2 linked regions of the Homo sapiens genome follow. The protein of the gene in region 1 interacts with the protein of each later gene in a biochemical or structural test. Each region holds a gene or a part of one and is shown on either strand. Other genes may lie near its edges.

Region 1 (8,535 bases):
CTATGAATAAATGAGATACTGTATACAAAGCACCTGGCATGTAGCAATTGCTCTCTCTATACATATACAATTGCTATATACATGTGTATATATTATATCATATTGTGTACCTATATATTTGTATTTTTATAAGCTTATAGTAAGCTATTTTTCATGCAGTTAGCCGGTCATGACAAACAAAAAGTCATAACACAAAAATGATGACAATAAATATTATCACACAAAAAGGGAGATATTTGAAAGAAGAGCATTAAAAGACATAATAAATAGAACATTTTACTGGGATTATTACTTTTTAATCTAACTGTAATACGTGGGCAGGCCACTAACTTGCCCACCTCCCCCAGTAGTGTTCTGAGTACCCTGCCACGTGTACCCAGGCTCCAGTACCTGATGTCCGTTATGTTCACATGGCCAAGGATCCCAATGGGATAAATACTTCTTGGAACAGTATCATGAGATCATCATTTTATACATTAACAAAGCCTGTGCTGTGGACTTGGGCATGCAGAATAAGAATGTGAAAGACAAAAGGCATTTCCTCCCCACCCTGGATGGGGATTATAACATAGTCTCTACTGATTCCTGGCACACCCTCCAGTCACCCTTCAGGATGAAGGGCTGAACCTCATGCCATTTCATGAATTTACCTGAAGTCTTTTTAGCATAGCTAGCAGAAGAATAAGGAATCCTGTATTGGTTATCAACTTGAGACTGCTCCTAAGCCCCATTATAAATTTTATCTTTTTCAAAGTAGCCAAACTTAAATTGTCAGGTCTTTAGTTGCAAATCCAGTGCACAATTTTTAGGGTAGGTTGAGTTTGATGACTTATTTTTTATTTTGGTTTTGGAGACAGGGTCTCACTCTGTCACTCAAGCTGGAGTGCCGTGGCATGGTCACAGCTCACTGCAGCCTCAACATCCTGGGCTCAAGCCATCCTCCCACCTCAGCCTCCTGAGTTGCTGGGCATACAGGCGCACACCACCGCCACACCCACCTAATTTCTTGTAGAGATGGGGTCTCACTATGTTGCCCAGGCAAATCTCGAACTCCTGGACTCAAGCAATCCTCCCACCCTGGCCGCCCAAAACGCTGGGATTACAGGCATAAGCCAGGGTGCCTAGCCTGATGATTCAAGAAAAGGAGCTGGGCCCTTTCTCAGTTAGTTAAGGCAACCTACCATTTGATTACATCAAGACCTTTGTTTAATTACCTACCTCATGCTAAAAGGTAAAATAAATGGAGTATTGCACAATGACTTAAGATTTAATCTGGGAATGGACTCTGTGAGGCATATAATAATCAGATGTGTTAGAAGCACCTGAAACATAGTAGTGGATAGTAGTGGATCTAAAGCTGTGAAAAAGGAAATGATGATAGTTCTCACTCCACTGAACTAGGATCAGTGTTCCCATGGACCTAGATGTGTTTCTCTCCACACCAAGACTGTCAATCCAGGTTCATTGTCCCAAGAGACTCCCCGACTACTGCTTACCATCCACCACACTTGTTTCACTTGTTTCAAAGATATAAACCTTGGCCATGCCATTAATAAGTGGGCAGAAAAGAGTTTCTGAAGGGAGACTGGGACTTGCCTCATTATAAATGCTAACAGTAACAAACTTTTATTTAGTCTCTCTCTTCCTCTTAAAACACACACACAAGGAACCAGAGTGTCTGTAGGATGAATTCCCAGGCCATAGCAACTGCAATGTCCTGAGATCTAAGCAGTTCTTGGCTGGCCAGGCGTTAAGCCCTTTTGGGGAAGGAGACAGCAAGCCTGCTTTTCCCTTACACAGCCCTGTCGTGAAAACAAGCTCTTGTTTCTTGGGGGTTTTTTTGTTCGGTTTTTAGCTAAGAATTTCCATCCCTCCTGCAGTGATAAAAGATAGGCAAGGGAAGCTCAAGGGTTTGATCTCAAATTTTCTTCCACCTAACTTGCCCCTTCACCCCAATATTTGGAAATAAAGGGAGGGAATTTGGGGGAAGTTGAGGGTAAGTTTTTGGTCAAGATGATTGACCCGAGATGTGGATGCAGCTTAGACGATGAGGGAGACTGCACCACCCTGCAGGGTCACCTGCCTAGCCACAGGTAAACGAGGGATCGGAAAGACTGTAGAAAATTCATCTTCCTTCACACACATCTCCTTCCCCCTCCCCCCATTCCAGTGCCGGCGCGCTGGCTGGCTGGAAGCCGGCGCTTTGGAGGCGCCGGAGAGTGGGTCTAAGGGTGATATTTCGGCATACAGAACCTGAGACCCCACCCGAGCCAAGAGGGAAGAGAGAGGGTAAAGGGATTGAGGAGGGGGCGGCTTGCGCCCTGCTCGGGAATGCACCGCGCGACAGCACCCGGAGGTCTCCGGTGTCCGGCGCGCACCGGTACCACTGTCTTCCACTGCGGTAGCATCCCGACATGACATTGCAGCTGCAACAAAGCGCCGGCCTCGGCCGGCCGTGGGAGCCCCACACCGCGGCGAGGCCCCACACCACGCAGAGGGGCAGTGGCCGATGGGTGGGGGGCTGTGGCTGCGGGCGTGGGGAGCGCGAGGTAGGCCGAGTAGGGGGAAAAGCCCTCAAATGCGCAGAAGCTGGGCGGCTACCTCTAGCGTCTCCTCCAGCAAAGCCAGACTGCAAGGAAAACAATTCGTCTTCATTCCCCAGCCCCGGCTGAGCCCTGAGATTCCCCCAAATAACCTAGTCGAGGCCCTCTGGTGTGTTGCCTTCCCTTGGAAACCCCTCAGTGCCCGTAACCCAGTCGGCCGGGCCCCGCGCCTCCCTAAGCCCCGGCCCGGTGACCCGCCCGGCTCCCGGAGAGCGGTTCCTTCTGCTCCGGCGCCGCCGCCACCCCCGGTCCACGCAAGCGCTCACCAGGAGAAGGGAGCCCGCGATCATCGTGGCTGTGGCTCGGCGGGCGATGCGGCTGCAGGAGGCGAGGGCGGTGCTGCTGCTCGGAGAGGTCCCCATGGCTGAACCGGGGACTCGCAGGGGCGCCCGGGGCGCGCGGGGCAGCTGGAATCGGCGGCTGCTTCTGCCCAGCGCCGCATCCACCGCCGCCTCCCGGGCCGGGAGCCCATCTACCTCCAACACCCCATGTGCACTGCTGCGGCCGGGCAGAGGAGGGAGGCGGCAAGGGAGGCTCTAGGGGCGCTCAGCACCTGCCCAGCGGCGCGGCCGCCCAGGCGGGGAGAAGCCGCCGCGACTGCAGCCCGCGTCTCCGGGTGCTCTCCTCCGACAGCGGCTGAGGAGAACCAGGGAGGAGGACTGGGCGCGAGAGAGCAAAGGAACGACTTCCCATAGCGAAGCTTCCAGCCACTGCCAACCACCCTCCTCCGCTGCCCAGACTGGTCGGCGAGGGACTGAGTCGGTGGCCACCGGGCGCAGGGACACACGTGGTGGCGCCGAAGGGGCGGGGGACCGGCCCTTTGTGATGTCACCCGGGAGGAGGCCGGGCTCTTTGTGCGGTTGGAAAGGCGAAGGCGTTCCAGGTAGAGCGGGGAGGGAGAGGGTGCCCCTTGGCGTTCGCTGAGGAAATTGCACGCGCCTGTTGACCCAGGGAAAGCGCTGAGAAAGCATCTCACTCCTGATCTAACTTTACTTATTTTTTCCGAGATAATTCCAACTAAATTATTTCAGCTACATACGCCTTTCCATTGTTTCGGACACGATGATTAAATCAGAGAGCGATGGTGAATAGACCACAGAGCACTTAGATCAACTGCGTGACGAAAAAGGAGACCTGTGTGTTGCTTCTCAAACTTTGCTGCCCTGTGGAATCACCTGGAGAGTTCAAAACATATATATTGATTCTTGGGTCCCACCTCTAGAGACTCTGATTTAATTGGAACAGGACAGGATCTGGTCTGGGCATTGAGGTTTGTTGTTGTTGTTGTTTGTTTGTTTTTTAAGTTTTCAGGGTGATTTTAATATGGGGCAAAGATTTTAATTTTTTATATTTTAATTTTAATATGGGCTTATGAATGCAATTAAGGAAATCCAAACTAAAAGGATTTAAAACCCAGAGTCATTGGTGTTGGGTCCATGGATGGTCTTGGAGGGACTTTTGAACTCCTTGAAATGTATCAAAAGATGCATTTTCCTAATTTAAAAATCAAGAGTTTTGAATCGGATTATCCCTGAGATTTTTTTTAATCACCCTTCCCCCAAAAAATAATGCTAAAAATTTTTGAGTTGATTTCCAAAGGCCTTGTCAGGATGTGGGTGGTAGAATAGGTAGTATTCTGCTTCAGAAGGAGAACTGGAATATTCTCGTGGATGTTGGTATCTCACACACTTCTGAATGTAAGAGAGCAGCTGTTATCCTTTTCTTTGTTTCACCTGGGGGAAGGCCGAGTCTCCTGACTGTGGCCACCATTTCTGGTATCGTGTTATCCATCATCTAGGTACTGACAGCACATGGCACACTGTATTGATATTACCTCTTCAGCCATCCAGTCCACACCCCTCAATTGGGAGCCCTATGGTGCTGGGCTTATCCTAGGCTCCTTTGGTCCCATTTCAAAAGAATCACACTTTTTAAACTATCAGTTTCAAGATCCAACACCCAGTGCTAATAAAGGTAACTTGCTAAGTCATAGGTACCAATTATTTGCTTTATTAGTTAACATGTTGTCCTTTGATTCTTTGCTCTATGCACACTTTGGTAGAAGCTAAAATTAATATGAGGGTTAATTCCAATCTATTATTTCAAACATTTGTCAGTATTGTCTATAAATGTTAGAGTGGGAAAAAAGCTACAATATATAACCTCTAGTGAAATTCAAAGGAGTTCTAGAAAATATTACCATTAATTATGGAGTTTTGGGGAAAGGATGATGGTTGGACTTGCCACTCTCTAGCTATTTTCAGAAGTTGAAAGAGTGAGGGATAGATGCTGTGTTTTCATGCATAACTGTATCAATTTTTTCTTCAAAAATTCAAATGACTGGCCAATACTATTATAAGGTTGGGTTGTTTTTTTTTAAGAAGTTACATAGGTATTAAAGAGGAGGAGGAGCTTCAAATACGTTTTTATTTAGTCCATTTTACTCCTTGCATCCAAACTCACATTTTTCGTGGTAATATATGATTGATTTGCTCTAAAGAGTTGGGCAACTTTAGAGTTTAGTGTCTGGGTTACTATGCAGGTATAAGAAGTTCTTCTCAACTATTTGTCTTCCTAAAACTAAAAGAAAATTGTTTATTTGTGCTTGGACCACTTTGAAACTTCATGAATTCCTGGTGTTCCATTGATCATATCAAGTTGAAATTTAATATACATTTTGAGAGATGAAAAAATTTACTCAATTCTGTTTACTACTAACATTTAAATACATGTCCCTCTATAGAGTGATAGATTATAGATAATTTGAATCTAGATGCAGTGTGAAATTTTATTACTTTGAATTGAAATGTATACATGCCTTCCATTTTGAAGTAACAATGCTGCAACCATTAAATAATTCATTGCCACATTTTCAATGTGGTAACTTAGACATGTCTGTTTTCTGGGAAAGGATAAAAATTCAATGATACATAAGGAAGTTTCTCCCAAAGTTCCAAGGAAAGAGGAGATATGTGTTGATAAATCATAATTATAGCTAAATTTTAAAGGAAGGCCTAAATGAGTTAATCCAATGTCATCTTTGCCATAAAAATTACTCTATCTCCACCCTCCATCCTACCTTTGGACTTTCTCTCTTTCTGCCAATGTTGTACAATTTTTCTAGTTTTCCAACCTCAAAAATCATTGCTAATTCTTTCCTCGTCCTTAGTACATTCCAATTAATGCTTTCCTAACCTTTCATTTTTTTCTATTTTATCTTTCTTGTTAAAAATCTGATATATACATCTGGATACTGAAGAAATCACCAGAGATTGCGCCACTGCAGTCCGCAGTCCGACCTGGGCGACAGAGCGAGACTCCGTCTCAAAAAAAAAAAAAAAAAAAAAAAAAGAAATCACCAGATTTACCATCTTGTCTTAATTATTTTTTTAACTTATCCTGCACACTTTCAGAAGGTCTAGTAAAATTTCATGTTCTTTATAATGAAAATAACAATTGTCCACATTTTGAGAAATGACTGCTGCATGACAAACATCCTGAGCCGATCTATGAGGGAATGACAGAAAGTTGGCAGGAAAATGCCAGCTCCGTTGGGGAGACCCTAACCCAGTGGCGCTAGAGGAATTAAAGACACACACACAGAAATATAGAGGTGTGAAGTGGGAAATCAGGGGTCTCACAGCTTTCAGAGCTGAGAGCCCCGAACAGGGATTTACCCACATATTTATTAACAGCAAACCAGTCATTAGCATTGTTTCTATAGATATTCGATTAACTAAAAGCATCCCTTATGGGAAACGAAGGGTGGGCTGAATTAAAGGAATAGGATGGGCTAGTTAACTGCAGCAGGAGCATGTCCTTAAGGCACAGACCGCTCAAGCTATTGTTGGTGGCTTAAGAATGCCTTTAAGTGGTTTTCCGCCCTGGGTGGGCCAGGTGTTCCTTGCCCTCATTCCTGTAAACCTGCAACCTTCCAGCTTGGGCGTTAGGGCCATTATGAACATGTTACAGTGCAAAAGAGATTTTGTTTATGGCCAGTTCTGAGGCCAGTATATGGCCAGATTTTGGGGGGCCTGCTCCCAACATGTCCCCCTTCTCTGATTTGCAAATCGATAAAAGCAAAGGCAGCTTTGTCATGGTGAGCTACTTCTCGCAGGAGTCAGGTTCCACATCTGCAGACTATACAAAGACAAACAACACAGATTAAAAGCACAAACGTCATTGAAATCACAGAGCTTCCAAGTGTTTTTATCCATTGTAATGGGTTACTAGCTGCTAATTTGTCTGTAACTCCTTCAAGCACTCCAGTTCCTGGCATTAAGGTCAGGTGTGCCTGCGATGCTTTAAACATTTGTTCTTTTAATTTTAATTCCTTATGTTAAGCTCCTAGAGCGGGCTATATCATTTGAGGCTGAGGTGCTGCTATACCACCATGGTTCCAGGTAATGGGAACTTTTGCCGTAGTTCTTATCATTTCTACCATCTGACCGTTTTGTTCAGATCATCTGAACATAGTGTGGCCGTGGCATGCAGACTGAGAGGTGCAATTCAAGCTAAACGTCCCCTTAGGGGACGAATTAATAATGATTCCATAGGAATCGTTGTGCAGCACCTCTGCCTGTTCTGCAATGCAATCTTCCTAAACAAGTACGTTCATTTTTTCTAACTGGGTCCAATCCTGTTTACAAATAGGTTTTTGTAAACCTATTCTGCCCCAATTTTTTTTGTAAACCTGATTCTGCCCCAATTTTTTTGTAAACCTGATTCTGCCCCAATTATAGGAACAGAATCAGAAATCACATTAATAGGCATATCAAAAGCAGTCAATACCTCAATTATAGCTACAAGCTCTGCTTTTTGAACTGAAGTATAGGGCATCTGAAAAACTTTACCTTTTGATCCAGAATAAGAAGATTTACCATTACTAGACCCATCTGTAAAACAATGAAAACAGGCTGCATGTTGTTTACTGCAGGAATTGTAAATGCAAACTGTTCACAGTCTTGCTCAGCTAAAGGGATAGTAAAGAAACAATCTTTTAAATCTATGACTATTAAAGCCCAATTTTTTGGAATTATAGCAGGAGAAGGCAATCCTGGCTGTAATGCTCCCATAGGTTATATAACTGAATTGATAGCTCTGAAGTCAGTTAACATTCTCCATTTACCTGATTTTTTCTTAATTACGAAAACTGGAGAATTCCAAGGAGAAAATGCTGGAGCTATGTGCCCATTTTCTAATTGTTCAGTAACTAATTTCTCCAAAGCCTCCAGTTTCTCTTTACTTAGCGGCCATTGTTCTATCCAAATTGGCTTATCTGTTAACCATTCTAAAGGTATAGGTTCTGGAGGCTTAACAATGGCTGCCATCAAAAATGATATCCTAATCTTTGGCGGGAACTTTTTAAACCTTGCAAATTTTTTTTTCTAGTCCTGTTCCGGGTACATACCCCATTTCATGAATCATATGTTGACTTTGAGGGCTATATAATTGTTCTGGAATTAGAATTTGTGCTCCCCATTGTTGTAATAAATCTCTTCCCCATAAATTTATAGGTACAGAAAGTTATAATTGGTTGAATAGTCCCAGGTTGTCCATCGGGCCCTTCACAATGCAAAATATAACTACTTTGATATACTTCAGGGGCTTTACCAACCCCAACCATGTTAAATTGAGTGGGTTGAATTGGCCACGTGGACGGCCAGTGCTGTAGAGAAATGATTGACATGTCTGCTCCTGTATCTACCAAGCCTTTAAATTTCTTTCCCTGAATAGTTATTTCACAGGTAGGACGTCTATCAGTAATTTGATTTACCCAATAAGCTGCTTTGCCTTGTTTATTTGTGCTTCCAAATCCTCCTGTTCATTTAATTTCACTTTTTCCCATTCCCACATATGGCACAATCAGGAGCTGCACTATGCGCTCTCCTGGCTCTGCTTTCCAGGAAACAGAAGTAGATATAACAATTTG
Region 2 (7,000 bases), on another chromosome or scaffold:
GGACAATTAGCTTGATGAGTCTGGATGCTCCAACTTGTAAAAGCCTCCATTTCCCAAGTCGTTCCTCTAGAGAGGACCTCTCCCTCCCATTCCCCTCGGCCAGCCTCTCCATCCATCTACAGGGGCACCGCTGAGCCAGCCCTGCCGCCCCCCCGACAGTCCTTCCTGGAGTCTAATCTTAATTGCTTCTGTTTCCTCAGCCTCAGCTCCGCCTCAGCTCCCCAGCGGGCCGCTGCTCACCCTGGCCCGAGGCTGTCTGCGTGTGGGGCTGCTGGTCATGCAGGCTCTGGCTGTCCACGGAGATGCCACTGTCGCTGTGGAGTTTTTCTCCCTCTGGTGGGGGCGTCTGGTTCACTGGCCGGCTGTTGGCTCCTTGCTTGTTCTGCTTGCAGCTGTTCCACCTGGAGCCAGAGGACAGGCCAGGTTTCAGGGGGCGAGGGGCTGTAGTGGCCGATGCAGCTGAGTATCTGTGCTCTGCCGTGTGAGGGCCAGGGGCATGGCGGGTGCCCAATTATAACCGCCACCCCACCATCTAAGGCTCCTCTTTGCACATCTGCCCCCACCTACCCTGAAAGCTCCATGAGGGCAGAGGGGCCCTCTGTAAGTGTTCAGTAAATGTTCCTGGAATGAGCAGTGCAGCAAAAGTGACTGCTCAGGAACTCCTCTTCTCCCAATCTACCCTTCTAAAATACTCCCACATGTGGGCAGTGACATATAAAAGGATTTCCTCTGCAATTATAAGCAATAACAAAAAACTGGAAAAAAAAAAAAAACAAATGTCCATCAATGGGGACTGGCTAAATAAATTACCATCCATCCATACTATTGAATGAGTGGTTACAAATGATCAGCTAATCTACATTCCTGAGGAAAGGTCTCCTGAGGGAGACTGAGTGAAAAAAGTAAGCTGTAGAATATGTACAATGTGATCTCACTGATGCCTAAAAAGCCCTCCATGTTTACATGTAATTATAAAAGGTTTATATACATGTTTATAAAAAAAGACACACAGAAAATAGTTGGGAAGGATCCATTTCAAACAGATTCCAATAAGGAGAGAAGTAGGATTTGGGGAGATAAAAGGGGGCTTTTACTTTTTGCTTTGAAAGATATTGGTCTTGTTTGCATTTTCCTAAACACGGATGTGTTACTTTGATGATTTTTTTTTTTTTTTTTTAGAAAGAATGGAAAATGCATTTAAAGCTTTAAAATGCCTTCTGGGAGTTCGTGCACATCCTGGATTCCTGGATGTGGGTGCCACAGCATTCCCAGTGTGACAAGCGAAGGGGAAGAGACATATGCACACGCAGGTGACTGTGGGGTGAAGGAGGTTGGGGATGAGGACACAAGCAGTTGGGGGTGGGGAGTCAGGGAGTGGTGCGGCATGGGAGTGGGAGGGGCTGGAGCCAGGACAGGGCAGGAGAGGACAGGACAGGACAGGTGGATCCTCTCCCCTCACCTCCTGCTGACCTGCTGCACCCTGGAGTGGGGCGGCAGATGATGAGTGAGGATGAGCTTGGTTTGGGGTTGAGTTAAAAGGGTGTGTATGTTTTCAGGTCAAGGTCACAGCAAAGTCTTCCTTGAGGGCAAACATCTCCCCTCTCTGTCGCCACCGTGCCCTCTCTTACCTCTTGAAGGCTATGTAGGCCACAAGGCCCACAACCACAGCAGCCAGGATGGAGCAATAGACAGGGATGAGGTTGTCGGTGGTGCCTCGGGTCACCACGGGCTGGGAGCTGCCCATCACTGTGGTCACCACACCTGCCACCGTGCTGGCTATGAGGTCTTGTTCTGGAGGTGCCTCAGGCTCCTGGGTGCTGGGGGCTGTGCTGTCCGAGCCCTCTGGGGGTGTGGACCGTGTAATCCAACGGCCAGGGATCTCTGGGAGAAAAGGCCACAGGAGTGAGGACCCACTTCCCCCACTCCTCCCTTTTAGCTCTAACCCACTGCCGTGTTCTTCCTGTGTCCCCGCCCTGGCTCCAGGTGCTCTTGTGCCCAGCTGTTATGCACAGCTGGGATTGCGTGCATGATGTCATGATGCTAAAGAGCAAGGCCTGTGGGCCCACAGAGCTGCATCTCCTTCAGCTTCGCCACTGACTTGCTGGGTGACTCTGGCCCAGCCCCCTTTTCTCTCAGAACCTTGATTTCCTTATTTATCTAATGGGGCTATTAAGAGAGACAGTCTCTAAGCTCCCTTCCATCTGGGGCTATGGTCCTGGAATTCTATTCCACCTCCTGAGTACCTAGAGAGGCCTATCTAGGAGCAAACACACAAAGAAGCCTGACCACAGGGAGGCCTTGAGCTGGAGTCACTCTGGGAAATGTCTCTCTGGCCCCAGCTTGTCCTTGATGACCCTAGTCACTCCTGTCCTAAGGAAAGAAGAGGGTACACAGGTCTGGTCAGAGAGGTGCTTCCCCCACACCACCTCCCTGAGAGCACTCCCCGACTTTTTGACCTCATGTCTCAGGCTCTAGGCTTGGGTGGAAAGGAGGGGTGCGGGGGCAGCTGGATTGCCTCCCTCCAGCCAGCCCTTGGACAGTGGCCAGCCTCTGTTTCCTGTCTTGCCTGGCTCCCACCTAGCCTGATCCTGCCAACCAGAGATGACAGCATCAGGTAGCCCCAACCCTCCTTGGTCAGGAAGCAGAGAGCCAGTGGAGAAGGGGCCCATGAGGCAGGTCCAGCTCAATGCCTCAGCTGGCGGGGGGAGACTGTGACTTGCCACCCACCTAGACCCTCTCATGCTAGCTGGGCATTGCCAGCCTCCCTGGCAGGGGACCCAGCCCTTCCTGGCACCAGTGGGTGGGATTTTCCATTCTGCCACACAGCCAGGGGCAGTGCTAGGGGTTGTGGGCTCTGGACGGCCTGGGGATACTTGTCTGGGCAATGTTGCCTACCCCGTCCCTCCTCACTTCCCACGCCTGGGGCAGGGAGGGAAAGCAGGCAGGACATGCCAATGGGGTGAAGGGGAGGGTAACTGGCTCCCAGCTCTGCCCTCCCAGCCCCCACTTTGCCCACCCAAGCAGGAGTAGAAGCTGCCACCCATCTTCTGGCCTCTTCCACTCAAGATGAAATGCTTCAAAGGCCCGTTTTCAGCACCTTCTGAGGGGCAAAGCCCCCAGATGTGAATCTAGAATCCATCTGGCTGCCAGCAGTGAGGGGCTGCCATCTGTCACCCAAACCACCCTTCCCCGTCTCCGTCCTGGGAGGGGCCAGAGGTAGTGAAGGAGACAGAGCCCTGTCTTCTGGCAGCCCCAGGTGGAGCATTGGACTGGGGAGGGTCTTCTCTTGCTCTGCCAGGGGACTGGGCAAGCTGGGGGGCAGCCCAAGTCCAGAGGCTGGAGACACAGCTCAGCTCAGACTGACCCCAAGCCAGAGGGTGAAGGAGTGTACATGTCCGGGTGCCCAATGAATGAGACCATCACCGAGATCAGAGCATGGTAGGGGAAGGCTGGGAGGGTAGCAAGGCGTGGCCAGACCAGAGGCGGCACTGACTCTTGGGGAGCTGCCCTCATCTCTCCAATCCCCTCTGACGGGGGCGGGGGGATGAGATCCAGATGTGGCCACGTCCACTAGCATTCCAACCTACTAAGCCCTTGGCAGGTCCTGACAGCCATTTCCGGGCTGCATGGAGGGACCAGGTTATCCCTATTCAAACCGAATTTCACTGGGGCAGCGGGTAGCCCTTCTGCCCTGAGGGTGGGTGAGTCACCATGTTGACACCTGAAACGTAAGTAAATGCGGGGAAAGTATGGTACGCTGGAGGGGAGGGGGCAACAAAACCAAGAATCAAATTCCATTTCCTGAAATGGTCTCTTGTCCCAGAGCTGACATTTAACCCTTCAGAGCCTGAAGCTGAAAGGGGAACAGGGTCTGGTATGAACACTCCCTCAGGAGCACCCTCCTCCTTCGGGGTGGCTGGGAAAGTGGGCTGGTATCTGAGAGGAATCTGTGAATGCCCCAAAAGACAAAGCCTGCTCCTCCCACAGTCACCACCTTTCTTTGCTCTAGCAGCGCCCCCAAGTCCCCCCGCCCCGCCCCCAGCTGGCTGGTCTGGACTTGCCTACAGAAATGAGCTGCCTGCTTGCCTGATGCCTGGCTGCTGAAACCCTTCCTGCGCTCTGCCTGGCGCCTGATGCCACTTGCCTGTCTCCTGGCCCAGGGCAATTGCCAACAGAACCACCACATCCTACTCCTCATTCCTTCTCCAAGGCAGGAAGCTTTGAGCTCAACCTGGCCTTAGCCCAGCGTAACAGCCCTCCCCATCCTGAGCTCCTAAAGCCAGAGATGGCAGGACTTGGAAGGCAGGTGTGGGTTGGAGCCCCTATCAGACTGGAGGGTCCCCAGGGGCAGGAGATCTGGGTGCTAACTGAGGCAGAAGCTCTGCTGCCTCCATCAGAATGGGGGATCTCTAAAGTGAGAGCTATCTCTCCTTCAGCTGGGGACTAAGTGCTGGGACCACGTCTCTCTCATTAGACTGGGCGAAGGCTATCTCTCCCATCAAACTGGGGGCTCACTGAAGGAGGTACTATATTGCCTGCTCAGGGTAAAGGCAACCTGAGGATGCAGGTTAGTTCTCAAAGGGAAATAGCTCAATGTGTGCATGGCCACAGGATGATGGACAGGATGTAAAGGCACTGCCAGCCTCTCCCCGAAGTGGAAAAGCCCACCAGTCTCCCCTGAGACGGACGTCACCAACCAGAGACCAAAACAGCTCTGCCCTGGCTCCCACGGGGCTTCCTTCTCCCATCCCAAGAACCACCCCATCTCCTTGGGGCCTGTGCTTGGCTAAGGTGGGCACGCCCAGCTCCCATCCATCCCTGGAGCTGACAGCCACGAGCATGCACTGCCTTGTCCCCGGGCTTTTGAGCCCCAGGTCTGCCCCTCCCCTCCTTCTTCTTCCACAGAGCCCCTCCTTAGTGTTCCCTGCATGCCCCTCATCCTTCACTAAACTGCGGAACACGGTTGACCCCTCCCCTAGACAGGGCAAGCTGAAGTGGGCCAGCCCCACTGTATTCCCTAACCCGCAACAACCCTGGCAGCCATATGACCAGTGAGGAAACCGAGGCCCAGAGACAGGAGTGGACTCCCTAACGTCAGTCAAGGACAGGGTGGGTTCCATCTCAGGTCCCAGAGCCAAAACCCACCATGGACCTAGACCAGGGCTCAGAGTCAAAGGGTCCCAGCTCCTGAGGGTCCTCAAGCTGCTCTTCCAGTTCAGAAAGCCTGCCTCATGGATCAGACCTCTCCCGTTCTGTGCCCTGGGGGTAGTGGCCACCTTCGAGCTGCTTGCTGTTCAGCTAATCACTAGCGGGAAGCCACAGAGAAATGCGTCCCGGAGGATGAGTTACAATGTAGTACCCGCGGCCTGGGACGCTGAGAACGCCCACTTTCCAAACAGCCCAAAGAAGGTAACACAGAGAGGGGTTCTTTGCTGAGACAGGATGGGGAATGACCTCCTCCCTTAGGTTACCAGGAAAGGACTGAAGCTCAGGGAAGGTGCACGCTGCCTCAAGGTCACCAAGCTGCCCCAGCAGGCCAGGCAGGGTCCTTGTCGACCTCCAGAGAGCGCCCTTCCTTATGCCCCCAGCCCACCCCCGCACCCCCACTCCCCCCGCCCCCCGAACCGCACTCACCCTCGCACTCGGCGTCGGCCCAGCGTGTGCACTCGCGGAGCTGGCGCTCGGTGTCCTCGCACACGGTGCAGGGCAGGCACGGGTCCACGTGGTTGGCCTCGTCGGAATACGTGCCGTCGGGGCACTCCTCGCACACGGTGTTCTGCTTGTCCTGGCAGGAGAACACGAGGCCCGAGCCCGCCTCGCACACGCGGCACGCCTCGCAGCGCCCAGTCGTCTCATCCTGGTAGTAGCCGTAGGCGCAGCGGCACACGGCGTCGTCGGCCTCCACGCACGGCGCCGACATGCTCTGGAGCCCCACGCACTCGGTGCACGGCTTGCACGGCTCGGTCGCGCTCACCACGTCGGAGAACGTCACGCCTGAGCGCAGCGGACACCAGATTTAGTCGTCTGCTCTTTTGGGCACCCGGGACGCAGGAGCTGGAGTCTCTCCCTCCCCTATTGCCTGCCAGGACGCTGACTTCCTCCTTCAGCCTTCTCATCGGCTCCCACCCTCTTCCAAGGGACCCTGACCCCTAGCCTGTGAAAGTTGGTGGCAGCCAACTGGGAAAGGGGGAGGAGGCCCGGAGCCGCATCCTCCAGGCTCCAGAAGCACTGGCCGGCCGGGAGGCTTTCCGGCATAACCCAGCTGGTGCCGCTAAGTTTCTTGGCAAATTCTCTTTGAGAGTTCCCAGGCCTGTACTATGTTCCCAGCATGATTAAGGAATAATCTGAACGTGGTTCCCACCCAGCCCTCCCCGCGGGCCAGAGCTGGGCTGCTAACCCGGTCCAGGCAAGGTAGGCCTTCCCCTAGGGAGCCTCCTGCCTCATCTGCCTTCAGTTCCTCTCCACACAGGTGTGGGCTCAGATGCAGCCTAAATGGGAGTGACCGGGGTTAGACAGCAGAATTTCCCACCCATGGCACTACCCCCATGCTGCTGAAGGGCTTGGATCCTGAGGGTGGGGACGGACCTGCAGGCAAGAGGGCTCAGGTAAGGCAGGAGCCACTGAAGCTAGAGAGCTGGCTCTTAGCCCACACTCACTCTCTCAGATGGATATTGTTGAGCAGTACACAAGCTGCACAACTATATGATCACCCTTTTGAGATCTGCACATGCGTCGTCTGCCCTTTCGGCCAGGATGCAAGGGAGATGTCCAAGCTCATTCTTCACTCATGTTTTCTTAATTACTGGATGTGCACTCCAGAATAAGGAGAAGGAGGCTGGGCACGCCAGGGTCCTTGCCTCCTTGTACAGGGAGGGGAAGGAACAGGGCCAGATCTTCTTCACCCCTTCCAGCTTTGGGTGGGGAACTCTGTGCCACCCTGGATCTGGCAGGACCTATCCTTGCTCCAAGGACAGGAAGAGCATAGATTTAGGAACCTGAG

Evidence for each region. Proteins that work in one complex are often made in the same cells at the same time.
Region 2: the proteins of TNFRSF21 (region 1) and NGFR form a complex in vitro, tested with the Homo sapiens proteins (one study listed by IntAct).

Annotation. Positions count from the first base shown.
Region 1 is NC_000006.12:47,306,547-47,315,081, forward strand, and holds the start of TNFRSF21 (tumor necrosis factor receptor superfamily member 21 precursor), read right to left. Parts: upstream 3,360-8,535; 5' UTR 2,966-3,359; coding exon 2,870-2,965; intron 1-2,869.
Region 2 is NC_000017.11:49,505,293-49,512,292, reverse strand, and holds part of NGFR (tumor necrosis factor receptor superfamily member 16 precursor), read right to left. Parts: intron 6,637-7,000; exon of another isoform or gene 5,995-6,636; coding exon 5,635-5,994; intron 1,882-5,634; coding exon 1,629-1,881; intron 1,477-1,628; exon of another isoform or gene 1,393-1,476; intron 1,311-1,392; exon of another isoform or gene 1,180-1,310; intron 402-1,179; coding exon 241-401; intron 1-240. UniProt on the Homo sapiens protein: Low affinity receptor which can bind to NGF, BDNF, NTF3, and NTF4. Forms a heterodimeric receptor with SORCS2 that binds the precursor forms of NGF, BDNF and NTF3 with high affinity, and has much lower affinity for mature NGF and BDNF.